3 separate regions of the Homo sapiens genome follow, and all the other regions are linked to region 3. Evidence: fine-mapped expression QTL. A gene starts in region 3. Each other region holds a variant in brackets. All regions are shown on one strand. Distances are between the middles of the regions.

Region 1 (5,000 bases), 410 kb before region 3:
TGGGGCAGGGAGAGGGTTGGAGCCATGGCCCGGGGCGTGGGGCTTCCCATGCTCTGCCAACCTCCATGTGCCCACTCCAGCCTTACCTGTGTGGTCCCTGCTGGGCAGCGTTGGGGCTGGACCTGGAGGGGGTCCTGGGGGCAGTGAGGGGGCCTGAATGCCAGGGGCAAGGGGAATGGCCTCGGCTCTGCAGGAAACGGGATCCAGCTAAGGGGGTGGCCAAGGCTGAGGGTCACCCAGGCTGGGGCAAGAGGTAGAAGCTGCTGCGGGGGTCACCCCATGGTTGGGAGGAGGCTGGGTGGGAGGGCTGGGCCTGTGGCAGCTCCTATAAACCCCTGAGTGTGGCAGGGTGGCTGTGGGGTTCCCCGGCAGGAGCAGGCCAGGGAGAGGGGTGCTGGGTGGCACCTACGAGCCAAGAGGAGTGATGGGGTAGCTGCGGGGGCGAGCTGGGTCCCCCAGGTCCTCAGTCTGGCTGATCAGGTCCAGCACAAAGTCGCAGCCAGCCAAGTCCTGCCATGCGTCCCTGGAGTGCAGTGACACAGACCAGCCCCGGGGAGGCGCCTCCAGGCCTCTGGGTGGGAGGGGACCAGTCAGTGAGGCAGGCGGCCATCCAGAAGGGGGCAAGGACCACAGGGTGGGCCAAGGGGGCAGGGGGCTGAGGAAGGGAGGGTGGCCCTGGATCCGCCTGGTCCGGGACCCAGGTTTGCTCAGCAGTGGGGGCTGCTCCCCTCCTCACCTCACGGCCCTCCACTTCCACAAGGGCTCCAGCATGGGCATTTCTTTTCTGACCTGCTGAGTTAGAATCTGCCGTGGGAGCTCCCAAGCCCCTCATTCCTAATCTGCCCCCGGCTCCCCATCGCCATCTGCAGTCTGGCCCCTGCCCACCCCGGGGCACCTCTCCTCCCGGCCCCTGAGACTGGGCTTGGAGAAGGAGGAGGGTATAGGACAAGGGTCACTTTGGCCACACTGTCCCCCATCCCCGGTCCCCATACCTGCTCTGCAGGATCCACCCAGCCAGCTGCTCCCCGGTGGTCCAAGACTCCACCTCGGCCGAGTAGCACTCCTCTGCAGGGGCATGGGGGGCGGGGGCAAGAGTGAGGGACAGCAGAGTCCACCCTGACAGGAAGGGGCTGCTGTCCCCATGAGAGTTTCAAAAGCAGGACAGAGGGGAGGGGGATCAGGGTCACTGAGGACAGGGCAGCAGGAAGACTGGGGCAGGAAGGGGTTCCAGGGAGGGCAAAGGGGTAGGGCTGGCCCCACTTCAGGCCTGGGAGGCCTCAGCCAGAGGCAGCCCTCACCGCTGAAGGTGAACACATCCAGCGCCATGCGGCCCCGCCGCCATCCGGCCAGCCACTCCAGCTGGGTCGGGGGGTGGGCCCGAGTGGCCCCCGAGGCCAGCTGCGACTGCTCCAAGGCCCCCAGCAGCTTGTGCTGGCACAGCGCTGCCATGCCCCTGGGGGCCTGGTCAGACACGAACCTGCAGGGCGGGCACAGGCTGCAGTGGAGGCAGGGTGATCCAGCGACCCCACCTGCCAGGTCCCCACCTCCCAGGCCCCTTACTTGAGCAGTGGCTTCTGTAGGACAGGCAGTGGGGGAAAGGCGCTGAGCAAAACAGCCATGAGGGCCCAGCCACGCTGGCTCTGCTGTTCATCTGGGTTCTGCCATAGCTGGGCCACCAGCTGGCTAAAGAGCTCATTCCGCAGCCCTGGCCGGCACTGCCCCTGCCGCACCAGGTATGCGCCCATGATCTGCCTCTGCCAGGACTCCAGGGATCCGTCCCCCAGGAGCCGCAGCATCTGCCGACACAGCCGGGTAAGGACAGGACGTGCGGGGCTCCCAGGCGCCTATCCTGTCCCTTCTCCAATGTGTCACTCACCACTTTGTTGATGTCCAGGGCACGCTGAGGGTTGTCTCCATCCAGCTGGGTTAGGGGCTTCGCCAGTGGCTGCCCTGGCCTGGGCAGGGACGGTTCCTGCAAGGAAGGAGAGGGCTCAGTCCATGCTCACCAGCTATCAGACAGCCCAGGGGAGCCCCACCGGAGCAGGCACCTCGGGAGAGGCAGAGGGGCTGGACAGAAATGCATCTTAATGCCTTTTTTTTTTTTTTGAGGCAGAGTCTTGTCTGTCGCCCAGGCTGGAGTGCAGTGGCACAATCTCAGCTCACTGCAGCCTCCACCTCCCAGGTTCAAGTGATTCTCCTGTCTCAGCCTCCTGAGTAGCTGGGACTACAGGCGCATGTCTGGCTAATTTTTGTATTTTTAGTAGAGACGGGGTTTCACCATGTTGGCCAGGCCGGTCTCAAACTCCTGACCTCAGGTGATCCACCCACCTCGGCCTCCCAAAAGTGCTGGGATTACAAGCATGAGCCACCATGTCCAACCTGTATGTGCAGTTTTGAACCTGCATTTGTATTTACTGCTGAAGTCTGGACAATTTCCCTTGTCAATAAACATTCTTTAAGGTCATGACTTCAAAAGCAGGGCACTACCGCAGGTACAACAAAGGTGTGGCATCGTGGATCTAAATAACGTCTCCCATTCAATAACACCAACTGTTATCTCCAGTAACGCTCTATGGTGAGACAATTACATTCAACGGTTATTTTCAGAGCAATTCAGCGCTACTCACAGCCCCAAAGGCTGGGGAGGAAGGAGGGCAAGAGCTGACAGCGGGGAAAAAAACGCAGCATCTGTCAGGCAGGTGCTAACTCAGAGCGGTGAGGCCAG[C/T]GGGAAGAGCTTAGGCCTGGGCGCCCACCTGAAAGCCGATGGCGACGAAGCTGGAGAAAGGGAACAGGTCAATGTCTGCTGGGAGAGTCAGGCTGGGCCGGGCAGGAACCTCAGGCGGCAGGCACTCGGTGATGCTCCCAGCCAGGGCGTCCCGATGGCCTGGGAACAAGCACCGGGAGGCAGCCCAGGAGCATCCAGGTGTGGTACCTGGCCCTGGGACCACCTCCATCCCTCACCACGAGCCATCAGCCCCTGTCCACAGGGACCCAAGTGATGAGCTCAGGGGAGTCTGGAGCATCAGAGGGAGGAACCACAAGGGACAGACACACCCCACAGTAAAGGGACTGGAGAAGGAGTCCTAACAAGAGGACACCAACAAGACTCACTTTCCGCCGTCTTCAGCATGACGGCCAGCTCAGCCGGGATCTCCAAGCGCCCCAGCTCCTGGCAGAGGGGACTCATTTACCCAGGATCCACAGGAGGGGCCTAGGGACCAGTGTCCCTCCCCACACCCTCAACCCCAAGATTATAAACATCCCTTCCAAAGACCACGGATTTTTTTTTTTTTTTTTTTTTGAGGCAGGGTCTCACTCTGTCACCCAGGCTAGAGTGCAGTGGTACCATCATGGCTCACTGCAGCCTTGACTTCTGAGGCTCTAGCTCAAGCGATCCTCCCACCTCAAACCTCCTGAGTAGCTGAGACTATAGGCATGTGCTACTGTGTCCAGCTAATTTTTATTGTTTTTGTAGAGATGGGGTCTTGTCATGTTGCCCAGGCTGGTCTCAAATTCCTGGGCTCAAGCAATCCTCACACCTCGACCTCAAAGTGCTGGGATTACAGGTGTGTGCCACCACACCCAGCCAAAGACCAAGGATTCTGACCCTGGACACTCGAACAAACAGAGCCCCAAAGACCCTCTGAGGGAAACCAAGAGCCAAGAGCACCCCGGTCCTCTTCTCAGGAGGTGCAATGCATGGCCCTGAGGGACAAGACCCACGGTAGCACCCTGGCAGCCCTCTAAGCTGTCCCAGTCTCAGCAGGTTCATAGCCCCATGTAAAACCCCCCACTTTCCAGGCCACCTACCATGCTTGGCACTCTCTCCAAGGCCCTTTCGCTGCTATGCCAGCCCTGCCAACGCCCAAGCTGTTGGAAGAGATGTGGGAAGAGCTGATGCCTCCCATGTGAGTCACCTGGGGGCACCTCCCCAGCTCTGAAGTTCAGCTGTCCCCTCCTGCCCCTGGGAGGTTCTCAGCAAAGGAGTGAGAACAGATCAGGAGGGGCCAGCCACCCCTGGCCCTCCAGGGCCCTCACCAGCCTTAGCACTGTGGGCGTCTGTGCCCATCTGCCAGGGCACCGGGAAGAGGGCAGGAAGAAGGGAAGAAATGGTCCCAGGGGACAAAGTCCAGCCAGGGAGGGGCCAGAGAGGGGGTAGCACGTGGGCATTGACCTTTGAGTCGCTTTATAGACCTTAGATTTGAGTCATCATGCAAAAGAGGGGAGCGGACGGGGCCCAGGGGAGGCCTGGAGGGGATGGGAACCCCAGGCAAGAGGGAAGAGCCAGGCCCTGGGGAGAGTAGGCAGGGATGGAGGAAGACAGCACCTCCCAAGGGCCCCGGCCTACCCCGGCCGGAGGGAAAAGGGATGAGTTCAAGGAGCACTGTGTCTGAAGCCACAGCCCGTGCGAGGCCGGGCTGAGAGGGTCAACGCTGCTGGGATTTGGCCAGCTCGGCCAGCTCAGGCAGCCTGGCTTCTACCCTGAACCGCCCCACCCAAGCCCCTGCACCTGCAGTCTCTGCCGCCTCTGGAGCAGGGGCTGGGCCACCAGCAGGATGGTGTTCAGCTGTCCCAAAGCTGCCCGCCGCCGGAGGTACCGCTTCCTGGAGGCCGGGAAAGAGCGGGGGCGAAATGAAGAGTCCAAACTTATGCTTCCTGCCTGGCACTGGAATCCCTTAAGCCTGACATTCATGTAAAAACTGACTTTGGACCAGAGAAGCCCTGGATGCTTCACAGAAACGACAGGAAAAGAATAGGATACTTCAAAAGAAAAGCAAGGGTCGGGTGCGGTGGCTGATGCCTGTAATCCCAGCACTTTGGGAGGCCAAGGCGGGTGGATCACTTGAGGTCAGGAGTTCAAGACCAGCCTGGCCAACATGGTGAAACCCCGTCTACTAAAAATACAAAAATTACAGCACACCTGTAATCCCAGCTCCTCAGGAGGCTGAGGCACCAGAATCACTTGAACCTGGGAGGTGGAGATTCAAGTGAGCCGAGAT
Region 2 (10,144 bases), 25 kb before region 3:
CATATCCCTTCCCTGCCCCTCGCTGTCTTTAGCAAGCAGGTTTCACTGCTTCATTAGAAGAGGACAAGTCAAAAGTGAATCATTTTTCACTACTTAAGGAATAAATCCAAGAGCTTTCCAGAGACTGGCTGCTGCAGCCCTGGGAATGTCTGTGGAATTACTATGTGGAAATGGAACTTTGTGTTATGCTCTAGACATTACAGTTATTTGAGTGTTACTCGTTACTGTTGAGGTCAGTGCTTCGTGGCAAATGGCTGTACTGGATATCCCAGCTCTGCTGCCCTTGTTTTGCTGCATGTTAAATAAAACCATTTTCACTGTACTTGGAATCTTCCTAGTATAGACGCCATTCACCCTGATGGAGGAAAAGGTACCACCTATGAATTCTAGATATACATGAGGACAGCCTATGATAGAACTGCCCAAGGTTTTTGTTAAAAGTGCGGGTTCCTGTACGCTTATATTTTAAGGGAACTAAATAACCAAAATGTTAAGTGTTCCAGAAGAGGTGAGGCAAGATTTCAGAAGCACAAGTATACCACCAAGCGTTCTTGTTCAGACTTCCAAGACACTGCAGTCACCACAACTTTGGGGTTTTTTTTTTTTTTTTTTTTAAACAGAGATGGAGTCTCCCTATGTTGCCCAGGTTGGTCTCAAACTCCTGGGGTTGAGGGATCCTCCCAAAGTGCTGGGATTACAGGACGTGAGCCACTGCACCCGACCTGGGGGGTGATTTCTTATCTAAGGAGGCACAGGAAGACAGTTGCGTATCAGAACATAAAACAAGGCCGGGTGTGGTGGTTCACGCCTGTAATCCCAGCACTGTGAGAGGCCAAGGCGGGCAGATCACAAGGTCAGGAGTTTGAGATCAGTCTGGCCAACACAGTGAAACCCCATCTCTACTAAAAATACAAAAAAATTAGCTGGGTATGGTGTGCACTTATAATCCCAGCTACTTGGGAGGCTGAGGCAGGAGAATCACGTGAACCCTGGAGGCGGAGGTTGCAGTGAGCTGAGATCGTGCCATTGCACTCCAGGCCAGGCAACAGTGCAAGACTCCGTCTCAAAAAAAAAAGAACATAAAACAAGCATTTTTTAATCTCTTACCACCTCAGGTTCAGACTAGACAGATAAAAAATTCCCTGGGTGGACTCTAAGAACCTACATTTGCAAAACAACATTTATTCTTTTAAAAAAATCTATATACATTGCCATACAAAGATACCACATTGAAGCAGTTCTCAGGAACCTTCCAGTGAGCCTTCTCTTATAATTGCCCGAGCAAGATTTCGTGCCAGAGAAAGTCTCAGCATTTCCACCTTGGTGGTCTCTATGTCATCATCCTGCAAAGCAGAGAGCGCCAGCATGAGCTAAGAGCAGGAAGGAGCCCTTTCACACTCCCGAAGGGTCTAGCTAATCCAAAGGTAGAGGGCACTTAACATTCATAGTAGCTTCCAGCAAATTATCGATGTAAAAGAAAGCAATACCAAAGGGCCATACTGGAAATGATGAACAGCAAAGAACAAAATGTAGAGATGAGAACACTAGAATCCCTGATTTTCTCCTAAAAGAAGGTGGTGTGTGAATTACACAGGTTAAGGGGAACAGAGGCACATGTGTCCATAGGAGCCAGTGTTTCTGGAGGGAAGGGGAAGCCTGAGATAGAGGGAGCCTTTTCCCACCTCCATGTGGAACCATCAACCCAAAAGTGAAAATGACCTGGAGCTGCTCGGTATCAGATTCTCCATGCACAGGTCTTCTTGACGTCAAGTCCTCCAGACACCGCATCAACTCATAAGTCTGTTCTGCTGAGAAAATCACCTAGGGAAGAGAGCCTGCCTTGCTTGGCTGCCCCCAGCCCTGGCCTGCATTGGTTGGGGCAGGGGCCCATGTTCGGACGTTCTTCCTTTCATACCCTTCGCAATAGTGTGCTTTGTATACGAATACCTCATTTCAAATCAAGCAGTGTTTGTTTCCTGTGTGAGTCTGGAATCCCAGAGAGGGCGCTAAGGGGAATACACGCGCACAGGCAGAACGACAAAGGAGGAAACACGCACATCGGCAACAGCTATACAACTAAGCTCTAGCAGGGACTGACAAGCAAAGAAAACCACTGCTGCTGCAACCTTCACCTGTTTCTGTTCCAAAAGGGGCAAGGCGTCTGTCAGCAGAGTCATCCAGAAAGACCGAGGGGCAATCCGAGACGTCATCAAGGACAGAAGGAGAGAAGCTGCGTCGGCAAAACGCTTCTCCCCGTACATACGGTGGAACTCGCGATACTTTCCTATGGCGAAACAAGAGCACTGAGTAACCTGCATATTCCCCCAAATTGCCCAAGTGACACCTACAAAAGTCACCCTGGCCCTAAACAGGAGAAGAAAAACCTCAGACCAGCCACTCCACAAAGCAGGAGATTTTTTTCTGTCTCCAAACTCATAGGTCCCAATGAGATGCAGACCAAGAGCATTCAAAACAGACTTGGAAGAACTCCGAAGAGCCAAATCTGGGGAAACATCAGAGTCAAAATACATAACAAGAGTCATGGATTAAAAGAGATTGACTAGGCCAGGCGTGGTGGCTCATGCCTATGCCTGTAACCCCAGCACTTTGGGAGGCCGAGTCAGGTGGATCACCTGAGGTCAGGAGTTTGAGACCAACCTGGCCAACATGGTGAAACCCCATTTCTACTAAAAATACAAAAATTAGCCGGGTATGGTGGCATGCACCTGTAGTCCCAGCTACTCAGGAGGCTGAGGAGGAAGAATGGCTTGAACCCGGGAGGTGGAGGTTGCAGTGAGCCAAGATTGTACCACTGCACTCCAGCGTGGGCGACAGAGTGAGACTCCGTCTCAAAAAAAAAAAAAAAAAGAAGAAACATGGAGGCACTGGCCAGGCACAGTAGCTCACACCTGTAATCCCAGCACTTTGGGAGGCCGAGGCGGGCGGATCACTTGAGGTCAGGAGTTCCAGACCAGCCTGACCAACATGGTGAAACCCCATCTCTACTAAAAATACAAAAATTAGGCGGGGCGCAGTGGCTCACGCCTGTAATCCCAGCACTTTGGGAGGCCGAGGCAGGCGGATCACAAGGTCAGGAGATCAAGACCATCCTGGCTAACACGGTGAAACCCCATCTCTACTAAAAATACAAAAAATTAGCTGGGTGTGGTGGCGTGCGCCTGTAGTCCCAGCTACTTGGGAGGCTGAGGCAGGAGAATTGCTTGGACCCGGGAGGCGGGGGTTGCAGTGAGCCGAGATCACGCCACTGCACTCCAGCCCGGGTGACAGAGTGAGACTCTGTCCCCAAAAAATAAATAAATAAAATACAAAAATTAGCCAGGTGTGGTTCCGCGTGCCTGTAATCCCAGCTACTTGGGAGGCTGAGGCACGAGAATTGCTTGAAGTCAGGAGGTGGAGGTTGCAGTGAGCCTGGCAGCCTGGGCCACAGAGCGAGTAAGATTCTGTCTCAAAAAAAAAAAAAAAGAAAAAATAAAAGAAAAGAAGAAAGAAAGAAAGAGAAAGAGAAAGAGAAAGAAAGAGAGAAAGAAAGAAAAACAAACAAACAAACAAACAAACATGGAGGCACTAAGGAGATGTGACAGCCAAACTCATGATCCTGGACATGACGGAGGATGTTTCTGGGACCACTGATGCAATGGGAATACATGAAGGAAGCGCTGGGAGAAGTCTGACGTGATCCCTCCAACCTCCCCAACTACCCACTTGTGCCCAAAGCACAGGGCACAAAACCCAGAGACTCACCCAGGAATGTCAGTCGGTCACTGAGCATCATGGCTGGCCCCAGGTTGTCAATGAGATCCAAATCAGAAAAGCAGCCTCGCTCACAGTAATCCCTGAGGAACCTGCAGGGCCCGGCCCAGAGATCAGAGCAGCAGTCTCAGGCCCACCTCAACCACCCAGTCCCTGGGAAGCCAACACTAGCGGCACCCACCTGTCTGACACGAGCGTGGCAAAGGCGGCATCCTTAGCACGGATGCTCCAAGAGAGGGCAGAACCCAGGCGATTGTTGCGGACGGCTTTCATGGCTAAGATCTTACAAATGCTGCGAACTTTGCAGGGGAAAAGAAAAGGTAAACGGCTTTCACTCCACAAATCACTCCATTCCTGAGCCCTGTGGGGACCGGAGTGGCCTCACAGCCTCACTCCACCGCAGAGCCACTCTTTGGGCTCTAAATGCAGCTGGATCGGCAGAGCTGGAAACTCGGCTGATTAACAGTGTCTGGGATCTGCTAAGAGTGTAAGTGCCCATCACGGCAAGACTGGCTCTATGAGTGTGTGTGGCTTCAAGGGGAGCAAAACGTTGCTCCCTACATGTCAGCTCTTCTATTTTTTTTCTCCCTACGTGTTTCTCCCTACGTGTCAGCTCTTCTATTACCTCTCCAGATGCCTCAAATCACATCTTCCTGTGGATCGTGAATACCATATGCTTTCAGAAATGGTCGTGAACATGCAACTGCCTCTCTGCAGGGTAATAACTCATGTTTACATTACTCAACAGTGAGGGGAGAAATGAAGGGGCAGACTTGGTCATCCTCATTCCACTCTCTCTGCTTTTCTGGAGCCACCTCCAGCACTGCTTCCCCATTGAGCCAGGCTGAGCTAGCAATAGCAACCCACCTGGACAGGGAAACAGCGCCAACCCCAGCCCTGACCTCGTGGAATCAAGTGTGTGAGAAAAGGGGCGGCTCAGGCCTTTCCAGATGGCGTGTAGATTTTGTCTGGGTTCCAGTGGATCCCTAGCTTTCCTGTCCCTCCCAAGTAATTATCCCATCTCTTAGTTTACCTCTTGGCGTCCACAGCCCCACGTCTCCAGTGTGGCTCGTGAGGAGGAGGATGGCTGGGGTAGGCATAAAGTGTGACCTCAGGATCCCCTGACTCCTGCGTCCCACAGACAGTAGGCTGGGAGCAGGGCCAGCTCACCTTGTTCAGTCATCTGCCGCTGCTCACAGATCCGCAGCACCTTCAGGGCTTTCTGCTCGGTGTTCAGAGGTATCCGCTCAATGTGCAGCTCCAGGGAGACTCGGCCCAGCTCGGGGCAGTAATCAAAGTAATCGACCCCCAGCTGCCACAGGCTGCAAAGGTTCGAGGAGGACAGACATGAGGTGCTGCCTCATGGCTCCGAGGACTGGCACCTACAGCTCCCTTTCACTGACCCTTCCGAAGCCTTCAAGGAGCCAACTGGGAGAGAACAGTCCAAGCTCCAATGGCACCCGCATGCTGAAGAGCACCCGCATAGCCCACACCCATGGGGTCCTTCCTACCTGGGATGAGCAAACAGTCCCGAGGCGTACTCCAGCAGGAGGAACTCTCTCATGTTGGAACCGAAACTGGAATAAAACATAACAAAAGACCAAGACTCCTGGCCTGCCCTGTTCAGGGCCCCCTTAGCCCAACCTCCCTTTCAGGCATTCAGTTCACACCACCCTCGGGGGCCTGGTGGTAAGAAGAGGAGGATCGGTGCCTCCCGGCCACTTACTAGAGGTTGTGTGACTGGAGGAGCTTGCAGTGGTCCAGCAGGTCTGTCAGGTGGGCCACAAACCACCAGTTGCTCAGGGCGATGCTGCAGATTCAGACACCAAGGCAAGAAGGAAAATCAGGGCACAGGCCGCGTCCCACAAGAGTGGGGGTGAGCAAGAAACCCCACATGTCCTGTCCCTCAAAGAGATGGGGCCGGGCGTGATGATAGCTCATGCCCGTGATCCCAGTACTTTGGGAGGCCAAGGCAGGCAGATCACCTGAGTCCAGGAATTTAAGACCAGCCTGGGCAACATGGCAAAACCCCATCTCTACAAATACAAAAATTAGCCAGGCATGGTGGCACACACCTGTAATCCCAGCTACTCGAGAAGCTGGGGTGGGAGTATTGCTTGAGCCTGGGAAGCAGAGGCTGCAATCGGCCGAGATCACGCCACCGCACTCCAACTTGGGTGAGAGAGCACAACCATATCTCAAAAAAAAAAAAATCGCTCAGAAAGTAGTTGAGGTGGAGTCTTGCTCTGTCACCCAGACGGGAGTGCACTGGTGAGATCTCGACTCACTGCAACCTCTGCCTCCCAGGTTCAAGCAATTCTCATGCCTCAGCCTCTTCAGTAGCTGAGATTACAGGCATGCGCTACCACACCCAGCTAGAAAGTAGCTTTTGAATGTTCTCACCACACGCACACCAAAAGGGTCACT[A/G]TGTGAGGTGACAGATGTCACTAGCTTAATTTCACAATGTATACATCTATCAAAACATGTTGTTGGCCGGGCGCGGTAGCTCACACCTGTAATCCCAGCACTTTGGGAGGCCGAGGTGGGAGGATCATGAGGTCAGGAAATCAAGACCATCTTCGCTAACACGGTGAAACCCCATCTCTACAAAAAGTACAAAAAATTAGCCGGATGTTGTGGCGGACACCTGTAGTCCCAGCTACTCTGGAGGCTGAGGCAGGAGAATGGCGTGAACCTAGGAGGCGGGGCTTGCAGTGAGACGAGATCGCGCCATTGTACTCCGGCCTGGGCGACAAAGTGAGACTCCATCTCAAAAAAAAAAAAAAACAAAAAACATGTTGTACACCTTGGCCGGGTGCAGTGGCTCATTCCTGTAATCCCAACACTGAAAGGCCGAGGCGGGTGGATCACTTGAGCTCAGGAGTTCAAGACCAGCCTGGCCAAAATGGCAAAACCCCATCTCCACCAAAAATACAAAAGTTAGCTGGGCGTGGTGGCGTGTGCCTGTGGTCCCAGCTACTCGGAAGGCTGAGGCAGAAGATCGCTTGAGCCCAGGAGGCAGAGGCTGCAGTGAGCTGAGATCGTGCCACTGCACTCCAGCCTGAGTGACAGGGCAAGACTCTGTCTCCAAAAAAAAAAAAAAAATTTTGTACACCTTAAATACATACTACTTTGTTAATCACACCTCAATAAAGCTGGGGAAAAAAATGGGAGGGAGTGGGCTGGGCCAGGGGAAAGGACACCTCAGCTTCCCAAAACAGCTGTTGCTACCCAGATTTCTAGCTGATGGTTATGTCGAAACCATTGGAGAAGCCAGTGAAAAGGCTATAGGGGACCCAGGCTAAGGGAGCCAAAGCCTTAGCCTGCACGAAAGCCACCAACAACTGGAAGGAAGGGCTGAGACAGTGCCCGGTGTCTTCCCAAAGGATCCAGCAGCCTCCAAGGCTGGAAGGCAGCAAGCACTGAGAGCAGAGAACTAACAACACAACTCAAGTGACGGAGACCAGACATAGTGCTGCACAAAGCCACCACGGTCTCTCTACAGGGCCCAGCAGGCCTGAACCACACAGTTAGGTCTTAGATCACACACGCACACACTCCCACTCTCACTCTGTCTCTCTCTCACTCTGAAGGATTCTGAGTGAGCAGCCGAGACACAGAGCAGGTGGGCATCCTTAACATTCAAGGCAAGAAAGGCCTAATTATCAGCTCCAAAGTAGCCCTCTGCTGAAAACGAGAGAACGCTGCGGAGTTGGGAAGACCAGCTACGGTGAAGGTGACCCCTCTAAGCAACTGTAGCCCCAAATGAGCTGTTTGTCCTGTACTAAGGTCACTGTCAACTCCTTACCCAGGCCCCATCTTGCTTGTTGGGGGCTCTGGAGTAATCAAAGCTCCAGTGCCTCTACCTGCTATTCTGGAAATGGGGTGTGAGGTTTGTAAACACTGCTGCACCCTGCATCCAAGATTGTGGGCTGGGCCAAAATACAAGTCAGAAGATTCTAGATTCAGCAGACATTAAGCTGGAACTCTTCTTGGTTATTGAAGGAAGACTTGTCACCTTTTAGCTCGATACTTTTGGAGGACTTGAAGGGCACCAGGAAACTGCCGACATCTTGCCCAACTCCCAGTGAAGTGCACCCCAGCTGTTTCCTCTTGCCAGACAGCAAGGAACTGGCCCGTCTTCAGAGGAAGCTGTAAGCCAGGAGGGAAGAAGGGACCCTGTGGAGGACTCCTGCCATCTCCTTTCAGCTAAGGGGTTAGCAGTCAAGCATGCCCACCCAGGCACTGAGAGACAAACCCCTGGCCCTTTAGCAGGGCTGACGAACTACAGCCTCTGAGTCAGGATCCCCTGGCTGCCTTTTCTGCCCCTTAGGGTCTGGCACGATTATTGACATAGGAGTAAATCAGGGGCCCACTTAGAAACCTCCCTTCTCCATGTTCATATGAAGGTGGTGTGAACAGGAAAGGAAAAAAAAGAAAGAAACCTTTTTTCTAATGCCTTTAAAAAGGCATGCCAACAGCTCACTGGCTCAAGTCCAGAAAGAGACACACTTCCCTGCCGCCCAGAACTGTGCATGGGTCTGACTGATACATCCCATGAGAAAACAAGTGCCCACAAGACCCCAATTCAACCTTTCCCCAGAGCCAGGAGGGCACACTTCCTAAAACTGCTACTGCCTCTGAAGACATTGCAGCCCATTTCACAATTCCTGGGACAAGCTCTGCTTTTCTGTTCCTCTTTCAAAACAGGATAGGAGGTAGCCTCGTGATCAGAGAAATGCAAACTCCAAGATTTCCCACTAACAGAGCTCAGATCCCTTCCTGCTTGTGAGAGTGGAGAGAGGCTGAGACTGGGGGACTGCAAGCCTAATCATTCCTTGTCTGTGTCCGGCACGAGAGTGATGTTGTTCACCCCTCTTCATGGTACTTCTCTTTCTCTTCTGCCACTGGAAACAGCAGGATGCTTTCCCCTTTTATACTCCCTGCATCCAACAGACTTCTTCTGCTCAAATCTGTTTTATTCCTAAAAATCCAGATACAGGGCTTATAAATTAGGAAGCCCTGGTGAAACTCACTCACTGTTATAACACAGGAAATTTAGAATACTCAACTATGGGCAGAGACACCAACAAAGCCAAACGATGGTGTGTTTGTGTGTTTTTAAGTTATTCTCACTAATTCTTCCATGCAGGGACTTCTCACAATGTTTACAGGCCTGTGAAAATATTGACACAAAACTTGACTTTCAGGCCGGGCATGGTGGCTTACGCCTGTAATCCTAGCACTGTGGGAGGCCAAGACAGGCAGATCGCTTGAGCTCACAAGTTCAAGAACAGCTTGGGCAACATAGTGAAACCTCATCTCTCCAAAAAAAAAAATAATAATTAGCCAGGCATGGTGGCGCACACTTGTAGTCCTAGCTACCTGGAAGGCTGAGGCAAGAGGATCACTTGAACCCAGGAGGTCAAGGCTGCAGTGAGCTGAGATCACTCCACTGCACTCCAGCCCGGGTGACAAAGTGAGACCCTGTTTCAAAAAAAAAAAACTTGGCAGGGCGCGGTGGCTCACGCCTGTAATCCCAGCACTTTGGGAGGCCGAGATGGGCAGATGACCTGAGGTCAGGAGTTCCAGACCAGCCTGCCTAGGCAACATGGTGAAACCCTGTCTCTATTGAAAAACACAAAAATTTGCTGGGCGTGGTGACGGACACCTGTAATCCCAGCTACTTGGGAGACTGAGGCAGTAGAATTGCTGGAACCCAGTAGGTGGAGGTTGCAGTGAGCCAAGATCACGCCACTGCACTCCAGTCTGGGTGACAAGAGCAAAACTCTGTCTCAAAAAAAAAAAAAAAAAAAAAAAAAACCCAGAAACAAACACACAAAAAACTTGTTTTTCATTCCCCAAATCTAGTATCATTTTCTTGAAGCCCTGGCATTCTTTTGGCCAAAACAAGAAAAGCAGGTAGGGCGAAGGAAACTCTTCCCATGCCCAGATCTACAAACAGCCAGTTGAGGTCAGTGAATCTGACACCTGATCAAGGCCATCTTCTGCCATTACCCACTTCCTCCCTTCCCAGCACGTCTTCAGTGCAATGCCCACCATCCAGGGTGCACAACAAGGAAGGGGACCTTCTTTCTGACTTACCATATATGGAGAGTTCTGGAAAGGTTTACCTTTGATTGATTATGTTTGGCACTCCCTTTCCTGCCTTGCTAAAGATTCAGTGCAATCATAGAACACCCTCTTTTGGATAGAGGGCTGGAAATTCTGAATAATACCCAGCCTGAAGCCCAGTGGTTCGGTAGCTCACGTCACTGGAGTGAGACTCTTGGAACACGCCATCCCATAAGGTGTCCATTAGGTGCCAAGAAACAGGCTTGCTGGCTTTTTCTAGATTTTAAATGTCAAAGTA
Region 3 (10,144 bases):
AAAAAAAAAAAAGAATAAGACAGGGTCCCCTGCCAGCAAGGAATTACAGGACTTTTGACATGTTTTTTTCCTAGAAGTGACAATAGATTTCTCAAACTCACCAATATTCTCCACTAGAGTCCCTTAAATCCAATAATCAGGCCAGGTGCAGTGGCTCACTCCTATAATCCCAGCACTTTGGGACGCTGAGGTGGGCAGATCACTTGAGGTCAGGAGTTCAAGACCAGCCCAGCCAAAATGATGAAACCCCATCTCTACTAAAAATGCAAAAATTAGCCAGGCGTGGTGGCACGCACCTGTAATCCCAGCTACTCAGGAGGCTGAGGCAGGAGAATGGCTTCAACCCAGGAGGCAGAGGCTGCAGTGGGCCAAGATTGCGCCACTGCACTCCAGCCTGGGTGACAGAGTGAAACTCTGTCTCAAAAAAAAAAAAAAAAACAGGGCCAGGCACAGTGGCTCACGTCTGTAATCCCAGCACTTTGGGAGGCCGAAGCAGGTGGATCACGAGGTCACGAGATCGAGACCATCCTGGCTAACACGGTGAAACCCCGTCTCTACTAAAAATACAAAAAATTAGCCGGATGTGGTGGCAGGCGCCTGTAGTCCCAGCTACTCGGGAGGCTGAGGCAGGAGAATGGCGTGAATCCAGGAGGCAGAGCTTACAGTGAGCGGAGAACGCGTCACTGCACTCCAGCCTGGGTGACAGAGCGAAACTCTGCCTCGAAAAAAAACAGAAAAACAACCAATAATCACTCTTGCACACACTCACACAGAAGCTGACCTGAGTCTTGTCCAGAATGATTCATTTGTGAAAAGCTTATCAAAGAAGTAACATACCAACACTGCCCATTCCCTAGCCATCCATGTGAAGGGACGCTGACAAAAATCTAACACAGGAGTTCTTAAACTTCAGTGTGCTGGAGATTTTAAGATCCAACCACGGAGATTTTGATTTTGATGATCTGAGGTGGGTCCCAAAAGTCTACAATTAACAAGTACCACTCTGATAATGATGAAGTTATGAACTACAATTCAAGAAAATCCTAATCTATAAATAGTACGAGAGTTTTCTGGTCTGTTGTCAAATAACGTCTGAACCATAATTTTTTAGAGACAAAACTGTTAGGTTTATATTAATTTTCAAATCTCCCAACAATGTGACCTCATTCAACGACTCTCACATGCTTGTGTGGCCTAAATTTTCTTCTTTAGAGGCTAAGTAAAATATGAATATAAATAAAGCTTGTCAAGCCAGCCCATCAATAGCATTTGCATATTCCCGCTAAGTCTTCCCATCACTGCTAATGTACACTGTCCAGTACTCATGCCTCAACTAGAACCAGGAGTCTCTTATTTCTTTACGCAACCCATAAAACACACAAAAAGACAACAATGTACTTCATTTGGCTTTCCACAGTGTAGTGTGGGCTTCAACACCAAACAGCAACCAACTTACTGAGATTTTCTGGATTTTCCAGTCAACTCTTCGTCAATTCTCTGGAGGCCCAGAAAGATTCCATGGGATTCATTGAAGAGTTTTCTCAAGATTTGAGAGTAAACATCTACATCCTTACGGATGATATAGATAAAGGGGCAACTTGGCACCATCTCTGATTTTTCTGAAACCAAACAGAAAAAAAAAATTTAACATCTATTATGATCATCTCCAAAAGTGAATCTACTCTAAAAAAATTTTCTGTGGCCGGGCATGGTGGCTCTTGCCTATAATCCCAGCACTTTGGGAGGCCAAGGCAGGCAGATCACGAGGTCAGGAATTCGAGACCAGGCTGGCCAACATAGCAAAACCCTGTCTCTACTAAAAATACAAAAATTAGCTGGGCGTGGTGGCACATGCCTTCATTCCCAGCTACTCAGGAGACTGAGGCAGGAGAATTGCTTCAAACCGGGAGGCGGAGGTGGCAGTGAGCCGAGATCACACCACTGCATTCCAGCCTGGACAGAGCGAGACTCCGTCTCAAAAAAAAAAAAAAAAAAAGAAAGCAAATCAAATGTCAAGATTCCAGTTTTATCCTTCTACTGGAAGGAGACTGTATCACTGTATCAGGAAAAGAAAAAGATTCACATCCTATCCAATAGCTGATGGAACTCAGGAAAATCAAGCCAAGGACAAGCTATGTCACTCTCCAGCTCCATCTGTGCCTTGGATGCTACGGCTCAGCTCAGCCTACAGAACTATTATTCAGCTGAATCCATGCTGTGGACACAAAAGTGACGGCCAAGCATCTGCAAGGTTCACAATAAGGGAGCTACTGATAGGAATTTGGTCACTTTGGACAAAGAAAAAGGGATAAAAAGCTTGACATTTTAAATATGAAGAAAATTTTTCATGAAAACTATTAATTTTTTTCCGGGATTCAACATCTTCAAGATCTCAAAAATCAATGAAAATCTAAAATAGCTAACATTTCAAAAATAAAAATGCCAAAATGCAACAGGATCGCTTGAGGCCAGGAGTGCGAGACCAGCCTAGGCAACAAAATGAGACTCCCATCTCTACAAAGAAAAAAAAATTAGCTGGGCGTGGTGGCATGGTGACCTGTAGTCTCAGCTACTAGGAAGACTGAGGCAGAGGATCACTTGAGCCCAAGAGGTAGAGGCTGCAGTGAGCCATGATCACACTGTACTCCAGCCCAGGTGACACAACAAAACCCTGTTGTATCTTGAAAACAAAATAGAGAAAATTAAAATAGTACAAAATAAATTCAACTGTTTCAGTCCACAACTAGTAAAATCTGAGGTAATAAACAGAAAAACAACCAAATGTGCCAAGATGGATAATTTGGAAGAAAAAAAACCCTACCTTTTTTGTTGAAGGAGGTTTCACATACCAGCATCTCCCCTGGACCCCAGTCAAAATACATTTGGTTCTTCTTGGAATTCACGCCTGGAATCAACTAGTAAAATAAGGCATAGAAATCTAAAATGAAAAATGTTCTTCTTACTGAAGTTGTTCCATTCTTTTTTTTTTTTTTTTTTTTTTGAGACAAAGACTCACTCTAACAGGCTGGTGTACAGTGGTGTAATCTCAGCTTGCTCCAATCGCCGCCTCCTGGGTTCAAAGGCTTCTCCTGCCTCAACCTCCTGAGTAGCTGGGACTACAGGTGTGTGCAACCACACCCGGCTATTTTTTTTTTTTTTTTCATTTTTAGTAGAGATAGAGTTTCACCATATTGCCCAGGCTGGTCACAAACTCCTGAGTTCAGGTGATCCGTCCGCCTCAGCCTCCCAAAGTGCTAGGACTACAGGCGCGAGCCACCGTGCCCGCCCTGCTGAAAAACACTTTAAGTGAAGAGCACAGCTGGTCCTCTAATAACACTGTATCCTTCAATAACATTTCCTTATAACACTGGTAAGAAAAATTCATTTTGGGCCGGCAGCGGGGTGGCTCCTGCCAGCACTTTGGGAGGCTAAGGCGGGCAGATCATCTGAGGTCAGGAGTTCGAACTCTTGTTGCCCAGGCTGGACTGCAGTGACGCAATCTCGACTCACTGCAACCTCTGCCTGCTGGGTTCAAGTGATTCTCCTGCCTCAGCTTCTTGAGTAGGTGGGATTACAGGCACGCGCCACCAAACCAGGCTAATTTTTGTATTTTTTTAGTAGAGATGGGGTTTCACCATGTTGGCCAGGTTGATCTCGAACTCCTAGCCAAGCGCGGTGGCTCATGCCTGTAATCCCAGCACTTTGGGAGGCCGAGGCAGGCTGATCACGAGGTCAGGCTTTGGAGACCAGCCTGACCAAGATGGTGAAACCCCATCTCTACCAAAAATACAAAAATTAGCTGGGTGTGGTGGCACGCACCTGTAATCTCAGCTACTCAGGAGACTGAGGCAGAAGAATCGCTTGAACCCAGGAGCCAGAGGTTGCAGTGAGCTGAGATCACGCCACTGCACTCCACTCTGGGTGACAGAGTGAGAATCCGTCTCAAAAAAAGAATGAGGCCAGGCGCAGTGGCTCACACTTGTAATCCCAGCACTTTGGGAGACTGAGGCCGGCAGATCACCTGAGGTCAGGAGTTCCAGACCAGCCTGACCAACATGGAGAAACCTCGTCTCTACTAAAAAAATACAAAATTAGCCGGGCATGGTGGCACATGCCTGCAATCCCAGCTACTCAGGAGGCTGAGGCAGGAGAATTGCTTGAACCTGGGAGGCGGAGGTTGCAGAGAGCCGAGACCGCACCACTGCACTCTAGCCTGGGCGACAAGAGGGAAACTCCGCCTCAAGAGAAAAAAAAAAGAAGGCCACATATCTCCCCAGAGAGCTTCCCTCACAAATTGCTCACAAGGAAATTCCTTGTGAGCCTCTAAAATTTTCAGGATACACATCGCCCCTATAAACTAGTCCTAAAATCAAGATCTGTTGATTCTGACAATGTCAACTACCAGCTTATCTTCACAAGTAAAAGACCAGAAATCGGCCGGGTGCGGTGGCTCACGCCTGTAATCCCAGCACTTTGGGAGGCCGAGGTGGGCGGATCACGAGGTCAGGAGATTGAGACCATCCTGGCCAACACGGTGAAACCCCGTCTCTACTAAAAATACAAAAAAGTACAAAAAATTAGCCGGGCGTGGTGGCGGGCACCTGTAGTCCCAGCTACTCAGGAGGCTGAGGCAGGAGAATGGTGTGAACCCGGGAGGCGGAGGTTACAGTGAGCCGAGACCGCGCCACTGCACTCCAGCCTGGGAGACAGAGCGAGACTCCGTCTAAAAAATAACAGTAATAATAACCATAATCCCTCTACCTACCCTGAGATGAATGCATACATAAAATTTTCCTCTGCTCCCTCTTTTCACAGGTAAAATGCAGATTTACTGAGGCTAATCACCGACTCACAAGAATGTAATCATTTGCCTCCTCACTGCCTAACCTCCCTTTTTTGCCCCTCCTGCTAGCTCCTTCCTCTTTAACTAGTGATGTTCCCAAAACCATCTTTGGAAAAAGCACAGGTCTCAGATCCTCCTGTGACCTGTGCTTTTTCCCGGTTGGATCCTCAACCTTAGCTAATTAAACCTTTATCGGTTGAGACCTGCCTCAGTCACTTCTGGTTAACAAGAGGGAAAACAAGAGCAATCCAACTAGCAGAAACGGTAGGTATCTCGTACATAAAGCGCGTGAATTTTTTTTATACACATCACAGATCATCCACAGTTGACATACTGTCTTCAAAGTTCAAATGGAATTGAATGCACAGCGATAAAACAGGAATAGTCTCCTGAGATAATACGTTGAATAAACCTTAGGCCACACAGGCAGAAGCTCAATGTGCCGCGATGCAGAGCTTAATACGGCTGGAATAAAAATATAAATTCCTCTGCTTGGGCTGAACCCACTCTAATGCCCAAGAGGAAAAGCAAGGGAAGTAAAAAGGCCAGGAACACAAAGGAAGGAAAGGGACGGAGTGGGACCTTCGAGGCCGGGGTTTGTGACTGGTGGCAGAAACCCCGCGACCACTGCGACCCTAGGGCGGGCACCTCGTTAACACTGCGACCTCCGGAAAAGTGGCAACTGAGTCGAGGGAAGGGGACGAGCGCCTCGCGACCACTAGGGAAGCAGACAAGCCTGAAGTAACTAAGCAGACGCAGTTCTCAACCCGCAAGGACGAGCAAGCCTGTTCGGGGTACCCTTACAGTGACTGTTGGCTCGCCATCGAGCTCCTCCATAGCGCCGAACCCCAGGCTCCTAGAAGTCGCTCGGACGCCAATGCTTCCCGCTCAGGCCTCCCGCTCAGAGCTGGCTGCGAGACAAGACTCCGCCTGGGCGTCTCCTGCAGCGCCTGCAAGCCCAAACCCTCAGTGCTGCGGCGCTGTCTCCTCTCAGCCACGGCCACCCCTCTGCGGTCCTCTGCACGCGTCCTTCCTTCCTGGCGTCGACAGCAAATCAGGGAAAACAGCGCCGAGGACTGACTGCACTCAGAGTACCGCGCTAACAGGATCAGGCGGCGCCGGGGACACCCTGGTGCCGAGCGGAGAAAAGGCCCCCGGAGACGGCGGGAGGGGCAGGAGGACCCCGGGGCTGGAGACGGTGCGAATGCGCGTGCGTAGGCTGGGGCGGCGGCACTTGGGTGGGAACTCGTGCGGGATTTAGGTCCCAGTAAGCGTACAACGTCTCCCAACTCTGGGAGTCCTCGCTACATCCCGGTCTCCACCTTAGTGTCGTCGCAGCCACTTGTCCAAACCCCGACAGTCAAACGGGCTTGTGCTGGAAAGCAATCGCCTCCACTTCCACACTAGAACACACACAAGAGGCACGGGAACAAAATCGATACCCCTGAAGGCCCGGCGCTGTGGCTCAAGCCTCTAATCCCAACACTTTGGCAGCCCAAGGTGGGTGGATCACTGGAGTTCAGGAGTTCAAGACCAGTCTGGCCAATATGATGAAACCTCGTCTCTACTAAAAATATAAAAAATTAGACGGGCGTGGTGGCGGACACCTGTAATTCCAGCTACTCGGAAGGCTGAGGCAAGAGAATTGTTCCAACCCGGGAGGTGGAGGTTGCATTGAGCCAAGATCGCACCACTGCACTCCAGCCTGGGAGACAGAGCGAGACTCCGTCTCAAAAAAAAAAAAAAAAATTAGCTGTGCTTGGTAGCGCGCGCCTGTAATCCCAGCACTCCGGGACGCCGAGGTGGTTGGATCACCTGAGGTCAGGAGTTCAAGACCAGCCTGGACAACATGGCGAAACCCCGTCTCTACTGAAAATACAAAAATTAGCCGGGAGTGGTGGCGGACACCTGTAATCCCAGCTACTCGTAAGGCTGAGGCAGGAGAATTGTTCCAACCCGGGAGGCGGAGGTTGCAGTGAGCCAAGATCGCGCCACTGCACTCCATCCTGGGCGACAGACGGAGACTCCGTCTCAAAAAAAAAAAAATTATTTTGCTGAGTCTCAAAAAAAAATTATTTTGCTCTTTTTCTCTTAATAAGTTTCCGTTATACCTCAAGTTGGAGTTATCGCCTGTGTAATTGAAAACTTTTCCAGAGTTAAATACAGTTTGAGAGTTAACCACTCTAGAGAGAGGAAGGGGAAAAGAGAGGGGAAGGAGCCACACTCTTTTAGAGAGAGGGGAGGAGAGGAAAGAGAAAAATAAGTTGTAAGATAATTGTTTCATTTTTCCAACCGTTTTCCATTAGGATTAACTGAAAAAGAAGGATACATAAACTACTTCATCAAAACCTTATTCTTAGAAATCTATAGAAAGGTTGAGGAAGGAAAAGGTCCATATATAGTATGCGTAATCAGTATATAGAACAAGGATAGGCCGGGCGCGGTGGCTCACGCCTGTAATCTCAGCGCTTTGGGAGGCCGAGGCGGGTGGATCACCAGGTCAGGAGAGAGAGACCATCCTGGCTAACACGGTGAAACCCCATCTCTACTAAAAATACAAAAAAAAAAAAAAAAAAAAAAAAAAATCAGCCGGGCGTGGTGGCGGGTGCCTGTAGTCCCAGCTCCTCGGGAGGCTGAGACAGGAGAATGGCGTGAACCGGGGAGGCGGAGCTTGCAGTGAACCGAGATTGCACCGCTGCACTCCAGCCTGGGCGACAGAGCGAGACTCCGTCTCAAAAAAAAAAAAGAACAAGGATAGCACTATTAGCTGTAGTTTTCCTTTTTCGCCCTTGTATTACTAAGCCTATTTGAATGATTGGGTAAAATGGTTGGTATATAGCAGTATTAGACCAAAGAATATTGCCAATACTTTTTCCTCAATGTTATCTAGCTCTTGGTCAGGCAATTTAACTACTTTTATTATCTTAAATGGCATTTTGTCAGCCTTAAAATAAAAATAATCAAGGAAATATAGCACTAAGATCTAACAAGCTCTCTCTCTCTTTTTTTTTTCTTTGTCTTTTTTTTTTTTTTTTTTTTTTTGTCTTTTTGAGACAGAGTCTTGCTCTGTCGCCAGGCTGGAGTGGAGTGGCACGATCTCGGCTTACTGCAACCTCCGTCTCCCGGGTTCAAGCGATTCTGCTGCCTAAGCCTCCCGAGCAGCTGGGACTACAGGCACACGCCACTACGCCGGGCTAATTTTTTATTTTTTAGTAGAGACGGGGTTTCGCCATATTGGTCAGGCTGGACTCGAACGCCTGACCTCAGGTGATCCACCCGCCTCAGACTCCCAAAGTGCTAGGGTTACAGGCATGAGCCACCGCACCCAGCCTGGTAAAGTCTTAAGTGGATACATTTCATGCAGCCTAATAAAACTAATGCTCCTGAACCGGGCACAGTGTACATTATTTAACAAAATCTCTGGCCTCAGCCTGGGCAACAGGGCAAGAGCAAGATGCTGTCTCAAAAAATAAAAAATAAAAAAAGGCCGGGCGCGGTGGCTCACGCCTATAATCCCAACACTTCGGGAGGCCGAGGCGGGCGGATTACCTGAGCTCAGGAGTTCAAGACCAGCCTGGGCAACAAGATGAAACCCCGTCTCCACTAAAATACAAAAAATTATTTGGTCATGGCGGTTGTGCGCCTGTAGTCCCAGCTACTGAGGCTGAGGCAGGAGAATCGTTTGAACCCTGGAGGCGGAGGTTGCAGTGAGCCAAGATCATACCACTGCACTCCAGCCCGGACGACAGTGTAAGACTCCCTCTCAAAAAAAAAAAAAAAAAAAAAAAAAAAAAAAAAAAAAAAAACTCTAGCTGGAACTAGTGGCACATACCTGTAGCCCTAGCTACAGCAAGAGGAAGGAGACTGAGGCCAGAGGATTTCTTGAGCCCAGGAGTTCAAGTCAAGGCTGCAGTGAACTACGATTGTTATAGCACTATACTCCAGCAAGACCCTGTTTCAAAAGCAACAATATGGCCAGGCGCAGTGGCTCACGCCTGTTATCCCAGCACTTTGGGAGGCCGAGGTGGGCGGATCACGAGGTCAGCAGTTCGAGACCAGCCTGGCCAATATGGTGAAACCCCGTCTCTACTAAAACTACAAAAATTAGGCATGGTGGCAGGCACCCGTAATCCCAGCTACTCCGGAGGCTGAGGCAGGAGAATCACTTGAACCCGGGAGGCGGAGGTTGCAGTGAGCCAAAACCATGCCATTGCATTCCAGCCTGGGTGACAGAGGGAGACTCCGTCTCAGAAAGAAAAAAAAAAAACAAAAACAAAAAAACAGGCTGGGTGCGGTGGCTCACACCTGTAATCCCAGTAGTTTGGGAGGCTGAGGTGGGCAGATCACCTGAGGTCAGGAGTTCGAAACCAGCCTGGACCAACATGGTGAAACACAGTCTCTACTAAAAATACAAAAATCAGCTGGGCTTCATGGCATCCGCCTGTAATCCCAGCTACTAGGGAGACTGAGGCAAGAGAATCGCTTGAACCCAGGAGGCAGAGGTTGTGGTGAGATGAGATCACGTCATTGCACTCCAGCCTGGGCAACAAGAGCAAAACTCCAACTCAAAAAAACAAAACAAAACAAAACAAAACAACACCCCACCAAGAACAAGAACTCCAACTTCTGACCTTTACCCACTAGATGCCAATAACATCCCACAATTGTGAAAACTGAAAATATCTGCATATATTCCCAGTGTCCTCTAGGGGGCAAAATCACCTCTGTTAAGAGCTGCTGGTATATATGTTCAACCGTAGAAGTTAGCTAAATAAATTATATCAGTGAGATGTTACTTTACTCACCTGTTTAAAATAACTATGAAGACTGACAGGACATGAAAAATTATTTCAAAAAGTTTGAAAATGTTCATCTTTTTGTCCTCATAATTACACTTCCAAGAAATAATCAAGAGAGATGTGTTTTATATAAGCACCAAAAAGGAGATTTAAATGAATAAAAGAAGTGCCTCACAAATAATTTTTATGCAGAATTCTTATTAAAAGGTTATTTGGGGCTGGGCACGGTGGCTCATGCTTGTAATCCCAGCACTTTGGGAAGCCAAGGCTGGCAGATCACCTGAGGTAAGGAGTTCAAGACCAGCGTGACCAATATGGTGAAACCCTGTCTCTACTAAAAATACAAAAAATAGCCAGGCATGGTGACCCATGCCTGTAGTCCCAGCTACTCAGGAGGCTGAGGCAGGAGAATCGCTTGAACCCGGGAGGCAAAGGTTGCAGTGAGCTGAGATCATGCCACTGCACTCCAGCCTGGGCGGCAGAGCACGACTCCATTTCAAAA

Evidence for each region. PIP is the estimated chance that this variant, and not a neighbour inherited with it, causes the effect.
Region 1: its variant is the best candidate, but not a certain one, in a credible set for the expression of NUP85 in anterior cingulate cortex (GTEx, PIP 0.59).
Region 2: its variant is the best candidate, but not a certain one, in a credible set for the expression of NUP85 in whole blood (INTERVAL, PIP 0.87).

The regions. Positions count from the first base shown.
Region 1 is chr17:75,609,770-75,614,769 of GRCh38, reverse strand. MYO15B (myosin XVB) reads right to left here. Exons shown (of 64, transcript NM_001395058.1): 22 at 4,511-4,604; 23 at 3,811-3,870; 24 at 3,112-3,169; 25 at 2,754-2,884; 26 at 1,877-1,972; 27 at 1,561-1,796; 28 at 1,299-1,477; 29 at 993-1,065; 30 at 410-571; 31 at 87-187. Among named protein-coding and RNA genes, the nearest start is that of SMIM5, 21 kb to the left of the region's middle. The variant C/T (reference allele first, on the strand shown) is at 2,726.
Region 2 is chr17:75,226,777-75,236,920 of GRCh38, reverse strand. NUP85 (nucleoporin 85) reads right to left here. Exons shown (of 19, transcript NM_024844.5): 12 at 5,498-5,581; 13 at 5,283-5,348; 14 at 4,942-5,093; 15 at 3,953-4,070; 16 at 3,763-3,863; 17 at 2,133-2,284; 18 at 1,720-1,821; 19 at 1,163-1,343. The coding sequence ends at 1,242. GGA3 (golgi associated, gamma adaptin ear containing, ARF binding protein 3) reads left to right here. Exons shown (of 17, transcript NM_138619.4): 17 at 1-322. Among named protein-coding and RNA genes, the nearest start is that of NUP85, 26 kb to the right of the region's middle. RefSeq lists a silencer at 2,107-2,270. The variant A/G (reference allele first, on the strand shown) is at 6,199.
Region 3 is chr17:75,201,298-75,211,441 of GRCh38, reverse strand. NUP85 (nucleoporin 85) reads right to left here and starts at 5,763. Exons shown (of 19, transcript NM_024844.5): 1 at 5,648-5,763; 2 at 2,822-2,915; 3 at 1,457-1,619. The coding sequence starts at 5,680. RefSeq lists enhancers at 3,097-3,664, 5,752-5,931, 5,090-6,023, 6,024-6,958.